Linked DNA regions of Homo sapiens. The protein of the gene in region 2 interacts with the protein of the main gene of each other region in a biochemical or structural test. Each region holds a gene or a part of one and is shown on either strand. Other genes may lie near its edges.

Region 1 (3,500 bases), on a different chromosome or scaffold from region 2:
GATCTGAACTTGTTTGAGAAGATCTGGCCCCAGAATCTCTGGGAAGCTGGCCCTATACCTGCCTTTGAGATTCCCTGGAGTCATCCTGGAATTTAGAATGACTGCTCATGTACATGACAAGTTCATGACTGACCTCAGAGGTTGCCTTTATGGCCCAGGCCATCTCAGGAGACCTCTGTCTGGGACCTTCCTTGTCTAAAACAAAACCAGAATAGTTTAGTCCCTGCCTTTAATCTGTGTTTGTTAATCAACAGTCATCTACCCCTTGAGATCTGTGTGTGCTCAGCCCAAGCAGTGGGAACTGTAGGGGATGATGTGGGTGTGAGGTGTCGGTGCCAGGGACCCTGATGTCTTGTGGCGTCCAAGGAACTGTGTGTCACTGAGAGTGATCGGCCCCCACAGCAGTGTTCTTTCTACCTTCATGTTCCTTGTAATAATGCATCAGCAAGCTCGATCTGGGCCGTGAAGGGATGGATTGACACCATGAAGAGCCGCCACAAAGCTGCAGACAGGGGGACAGCAAGGCTGGCTTGTTCTAGGGCTGACCTGGACCCGAAGAAACTGGGGATAAAAAGAGAAAGGTCAAGGCAGTGCCCTTGGCGTCCTGTGGGCAGCCCAGTTTGCTCTTTTCTGGAGTATTTTCCAGAGGTGGAGAACAAGCAATTTTAGTTCTGTCAAGTTTAATTTACAGTATTCCAGGCCTAAGTGATCATTCCACTACTCTTGAGGAAAGGAGACTGACCCTGGCAAACACTGTGCTCACACATGCAAACCACCTATCCCGATCACTAACTGTCCTGCTGTTTGCTCATGCCAGCAAAAACCCGGGCAGCTGACTTGTTGGTGAATCCCCTGGATCCGCGGAATGCAGATAAAATTAGAGTAAAAATTGCTGACCTGGGAAATGCTTGTTGGGTGGTAAGTAGAGTTTTCTTTCTAAAACCTTTGGTCTTGATTCTGTGTGCGAAGACACTTTTTGAATGTCTGTGTTGCTCCGTGGTAATGCAGCCTGTTCCCTTCCAGCATAAACACTTCACGGAAGACATCCAGACGCGTCAGTACCGCTCCATAGAGGTTTTAATAGGAGCGGGGTACAGCACCCCTGCGGACATCTGGAGCACGGCGTGTATGGTAAGGACGGCTGTGCCCTTTGCTGCCATGGGAATTGGCTCGTTCCTTTCACACTCTGGATGGGGCTGAGTCTCTCTGAGGCATGCGACCTCAGTTTTTCTGACTGTAAGGGTCATCCACCGTGGGCTGGGTGAGGGGAAGGTTGCTGCCGCAGGCATCTTAAGAAGTGGAAGGATCCTCCTCAGGCGGGCCCTGGGTGTTTGGTGTGGTTGTGGGCTTGTGAGAGAGACATGGTCTCTTCTTAAGGCCCTGCACAGCCCACAGCCCCATGAATCAGACTCAGTTGTTGTGACACAGTGACTTCACTTGTGGTCCCTGAAAATGTGCAGGGTATAGGGAGCTTTTCCCTTCACTCACACTGTGGAGGAAGATGAGGTAGCATCTCCAGGGGAAGACTGCCTAAGGCGGGCAGGTGGGAGCCCCTCCAGGTAAGCCTCTGCCTGGTCAACCAGACATGCAGGGTTCCTCACCTTTCCAGACTGGAAGGGATTTCCCCAGATGCCAATGCATAATCTCTCTTCCCTTATAAAGCAAGAGCTAGCAGATATTCTGGCTTATTCTAGGATGTCTAGCCTCTTCTGAAACAGTGGCAGCAACGCCCACTCCCTCTGACAGAGTCTGTTCCCAGAGTGGTTGAGATGACGGCTTCCACAGGGCGGCAGAAGCCTCTTCTTCTATCTGTCAGGCCTGTTTTGCTGCTGGTTTTGTGCTGCACAGTTGCATTGTCTGTAAACTCCCCTGGCCCTGCCTGGCATCGTTTGGTCATTGACCCTGAACCTGTGAGTTGGTGAACACAAAGGGCCCTGCATTTGCGAGCCAGTTCCTGGTTCTCTTCCTCTGCCCTGTTTCCTGGCCCATTCAGCAGCTTTTTCTCAGTGGTATTTACTTAGGCGTTCCGTGTTGGGAAAGGTGGGTTGCTTGCTGTTGGGTTTCATGCTTTTCCTATTCCATACTGCTTTTTATCCATATTCTTCCAATATTTAAAAGAAAAGATTGTGTGCAAGGCTTAGCATTTTTCTTCTCACTGAAAAAAGGAATGCAGAATAAATATATTAATTTTCTGTTATTCAGAGGTTAATTTAACAATTTTCTTGAATTTACTGTGTTTTACCTCCTCTAATGCTCAAGTAAAAGCATTGTTGAGCAGATAGTGCCAGCTGATAGGAGAAAAAGAGGGTGCTTTCTGTCTTTCAGCTTTGACTCAGCATGATCTGAGTCAGCACATGGCCAGATAGGTCCTGAAACACCAGGCCTTTCTATTCCCTCGTTGCTCTTAAGGATAATACCAGACAATAACGTTTAAATTATTAAAGGTATTAAAGTTCTTCCATATCAAAAACCAAGTCCCTGCCTTAGCTAGGTATAGAAAAGAACGGTTAAAAGAACCGGTGGCCAATGATGGTCACTTTGAATTTAGAGAGTGCTGTGTGGAGAGGCATTTGACCCTCTCTGTGTGACCCCAGCAGGCAGACTGAGACGTGGGAGTTAGTGTAACGGGAGCTGCGGAGACACTGAGTGGGAGTCGGGGAGCAGGGGCCATTTCAGGATGTGGGGAGGTTAGACCACAATGGCCACTAGCAGCAGGGCTGCCCCGAATTAGGCGCTAAGTACTCTTTGAACTCTGAAATGCTGTGCTTCTAATTTGGGGTATTAAGTTTGGTGATATAACCAGAAAAATAGGACGCAGTCACGGATGTAGTGGGTTAATGGAGCTTTCAGCACAATTTTATACCAGGTTATCTGACCTGCCTTCCATTAGATGAACGTTTGTCCCTCCATACAATTTCCCTGTCCTGCTTACTTCTTGAAATGCTATTGCTGTGAACAGTGGCATAAATATCAATAACAGATTCCCAAGGAAAAGCCTTTCTGTCTTCTCACCTGCCCCCTTCCCAAGAATTAAGCATAAGCTCCCTCAGTGCTGTCAGGACGGCTTATGAGGTTTGCTTTTTCAGTTGGTTGTCATAAGGGAGGTTTTTTTTTTTTTGGAAAGGGGCAGGCCCTCATTCACTGCTTGCCCCACCCCCCAAAAGTCATGGCTTTAGAGGTTTCTTTTGTTCCTCCTAGAGAACCTAGGAGCAATGAGGCAGTTTTTCTTACCTCATCGTTCTGTTGTAGTGTAAAAATAGGACATTTAATATATTAAATTTGACCTCATAATACCAAGCTGTCATAAGGCCACAGATGGTTCTTGGTGGTAAAGCCTATATATAGTCTTTGAGGGTTTTGTTTGTTTGTTTGGAGACAAGGTCTTGCTCTGTTCCCCAAGCTGAAGTGCAGTGGCAGGACTATAGTTCACTGCAGACTCCACTTCCCAAGCTCAAGTGATCCTCCCACCTCAGCCTCTGGTGTAGCTGGGACTACAGGCA
Region 2 (3,500 bases):
CTGAGATACCTTAAGCTCTGCATGGTCTGAAATCCCCTTTCTTGCTGGCTGTGATAAATGGACCCTCATTTTCTATCTTTCCCCTACACTCCACAAAAACCCCAGCCCCTATAGTCAAGCCTAATTTAGGTTGCTTCTCTTCCCTTATCTCAATTAAAAGACCGTGTTCCTTGTGATGAGATTATGAAAATTTCCTTTAGAGGAAAAAAGAACAAAAATTCAAAAGCATCTGCAACTCAGGTAGTCACAAGCTTAAAAGAAGGAAAAAAAATCCTATCATTCCGGAGCTCAACACTCTATGGCAGTGTCCACAACAGAACCTTGTTTTGTCTTCTGTTTGCAAATGGATGAATTTTATCACTCCATCAAGGGGATTAGCATTTTTGTCTTTAACCCAAGCTATGGCAGGACAGTTAAAAGGCCCCCATCTGGTCATGATGCCAAAGTCCACAGCGATAGGCTGTGAGACACACGCTACTTGATCCTCTCTAAGGACAGCTAGCTGGGATGAATAGCTTATAGTCATCTGATATAATGATGGCAGCTATGCCAGGCCAAAAGGAATAGGGGTGGGGAGGATCTGTACCATAATTTCACATTGCTAATAGCAAATAAGCCCCACTTCCCCAAGCGGGAGGCAATGCAGACTTGGCTGCTAATCAGTGGTTCATCATTCATTGGGGGAAAGGGGCAGGGGGCACTAAAGGTTTAGCCTGTGTCAAGGATGCATGCTATATATGTGTGTGCATGTGTGTTTGTGTGTGTGTGTGTATGTATGTGTGTGTGTGTGTGTGTGTGTGTGTGTGTATATATATATATATATATATATATATATATATATATATATATAATCACTAACTTGGCAACTGGAATAGGCACAAAATTACAGCATCCCAAACCCAGCGTGGGTCACAAGAAGAAACCTCGAAAGCAAAAACTGGAGTGCAGTAGCAGCAGCAGCCTCCCTGGGCAGATGCACTTGAGTTGAACGTGGCCATAGATGGCAGAAGAGGCAAGTGGGAAAACCAAGGTGAAAACTCACAGGAGTTTTCCTTGGCCCAAAGGGTTTTCAAGTTAAACAACAACCCCCACCCCCCCACCCTTCTGCCCAACCCCTGATCCCCATTCACATGCTCAGGCCCCGTGTCCCTACTCCAGAATTGATAATAACTACTTGGCTAGGTTTCCATTCATGGCAGTGGAGGAGTAGCTGGTGGCAAGAGAGGCACCTTGCTCAGCCCTCTCCTTTGACAGGTCAAGGCTGGAAGGCCCATAGTGAGTGGGCTGAGGCTGGGGGTGCTCAGGCCGGACCCTGGGCAGCTGAGGAATGCCATGGGTGATGCCCACAGGCTTGGCCTGTGGTAGAGGGCTGGGGCTGAAGCCTCCAGAACTGGAAGAGCAACTGGGCTCATCAACAGGCAGCAGCACATCTCGAGGCCTGGCCCTCATGCTCTGGGAGGCCTGTGGCTGGAGGTTATAGCAAGGGCCCATGGGCAGGTGTAGGTGTGAGGGACGAGCTAGTTGAGGCCCAGATTCCCCAGGTGCCCTTGACTCTGGCACTGATAGTGATATTGACATGGTCATAGGAGGTATGCAACAGGTTGCCTGCCTATATGGAGACTGGCTGGAAGGCCTGTCCAACTGGTTGGGGCTTATCCAGGCAGGACCTGGCCCCACTGGAAGAGGACAGGGAGCCCAAGCAGGCCAATCATAGGCCCCTGGGGGTTCAGTATAGAGGGAAAGGGGACTGTCTCGGCTCCATTCTCCTTCTTCCTCCTCTTCGTCCTCCTCATCTGAATCTTCCTGCTGGGCCTGCAGCTCATCAGACTCGAGGTAGCCCTGGACCAAGTGGGAATTGGAGAGCTCCATCTCCAGGGTCTCTGCAGTGTCGAGAGAGCGGCTTCTCCTGTTGAGGGCCATAGCAGCAGGTGGAGGTCGAGGGTGCAGGCCAGGCAGTCCCAAGTATCGAGGGAGGCTGCTCACACCCCAGGGCAGGCCTTGGTAGAATCGACTATGGTAGTTGTTGAAGGCATGTTTGTGATAGTAGCCCAGCTCAAAGGCTTCCAAGGAGGCTGCAAGATCTTCATCATTGTGGAACTCAGGATTCTCTTCACACTTGCCTTCCCCATCCCGTTCCACATCAGCGATGTCAAAGGTCACCATGGGAGGCAGCTCAGGGAGGTTTTGAGTGAAAGATGAGTCAGAGTCAGAGCTGCAGGACATGCTGGAAAAGAGGTTCCCATTGCTGGTGAACTCTACCAGGGCCTGTGAGAAACTCACAGTGGCATTCCCTTCCTTCTCAACCTCCTCTTCCTCTGGATCTTCAGGGGGTGAATAAGTAGGGTAGGCCCTCCTGGGAGATCCTCCAAAATTTGCTTCTTGCATGTCTGGCTCAAACATGGCATCACTCTGGAAGAGCTGCATCAGGCAGGTACTTTGATCTTTCTTGGAGCAGGTTCCTTCATAACGCTTCTCCAGAGGACGGAAGTCCCTCCAGTCTGGCTCGCTGCTTGCAGTGGTGGGGAAAGCTGAGGTAATTCCCCGGTGGGAAATCTGAGAGGTCCCTGATACCCCTGCTGCCAGGCCCATCACTGATGGGCCTAAGGGCCTCATCTGATACTCTAAGACGGGCTTCTCCTGCCGGGCCTGGGTCTCTCGGACTTGAGTCTCTCTACAACGAACCTCTCGGGCCTGGGCTTCTCGGGTTCTGGCCTCCCTGCCATGAGCTTCCCAAGTGTGGGCCTCCCTGGCATAGGCTTCCCTGCCATAAGCCTCTCGAGTATAGGCCTCCCTGGCGTGGGCCTCCCTGGCATGAGCTTCTCGGGCACGTGCCTCCTGGGCCTCAAGCTGCTCCCGCCGAAGCTCCCAATACAACAACTGTTTCTGGATGGTCACTAGCCGTTCTTCCTCTGTCTCCATTGCCCCAGGTGGCCGGGAGGACAAAAAGGGCTCAAAGTTTAAGAAGGGGTCAAACATCTCAGAGCTTCGACCATGGAGGTCATAAAGGCAGTCATCTCCAGGTGGAGAGTTCTCAAGGCTGTCATCTGGCTCATAGAACTCATATAGGGCATCTCCACTGTAGCTGTCTCGGGGTAGACAATCCCTGCGGACAAGCCCCAGGGCCTCACCTGAATCATCCTCAAATCCAGGTGTGGTGGAGTCATAATAACCTTCATCACTATTGGGGGCGGATTCTTGCTGGTCACTCTGAGGAGTCAAAAGTTCCCCAGGGGCTAGGCCAGGATAAGACCTAACTGGGTCAAGGAGCATGTAGCCGTGGTGGCCTGGGGATGTGGTGGGATGGTAGCCCAGGTTCATATTGGGCCGTGGATACATTTGGGCAGTTTCCCACAGATATTCTAAGTCATCATCTTCTTCCTCCTCCTTAACCTCCTCTTCTTCCTCCTCTAATTCCACCTCTTCTTCCTCTTCTTCCTCCTCGTCATCATCATCTGGCAAGGCCATCTCCTCCCCACCTCCTTGGTAGGTCACCAGGCAGG

Evidence for each region. Proteins that work in one complex are often made in the same cells at the same time.
Region 1: of the proteins of AMER1 (region 2) and SRPK2, one has a biochemical effect on the other in vitro, tested with the Homo sapiens proteins (one large-scale study listed by BioGRID).

What each region holds. Positions count from the first base shown.
Region 1 is NC_000007.14:105,130,422-105,133,921, reverse strand, and holds part of SRPK2 (SRSF protein kinase 2), read left to right. Parts: exon of another isoform or gene 1-817; coding exon 818-918; exon of another isoform or gene 919-1,023; coding exon 1,024-1,131; exon of another isoform or gene 1,132-2,155; intron 2,156-3,500. UniProt on the Homo sapiens protein: Serine/arginine-rich protein-specific kinase which specifically phosphorylates its substrates at serine residues located in regions rich in arginine/serine dipeptides, known as RS domains and is involved in the phosphorylation of SR splicing factors and the regulation of splicing.
Region 2 is NC_000023.11:64,188,709-64,192,208, forward strand, and holds part of AMER1 (APC membrane recruitment protein 1), read right to left. Parts: coding exon 1,171-3,500; 3' UTR 1-1,170. UniProt on the Homo sapiens protein: Regulator of the canonical Wnt signaling pathway.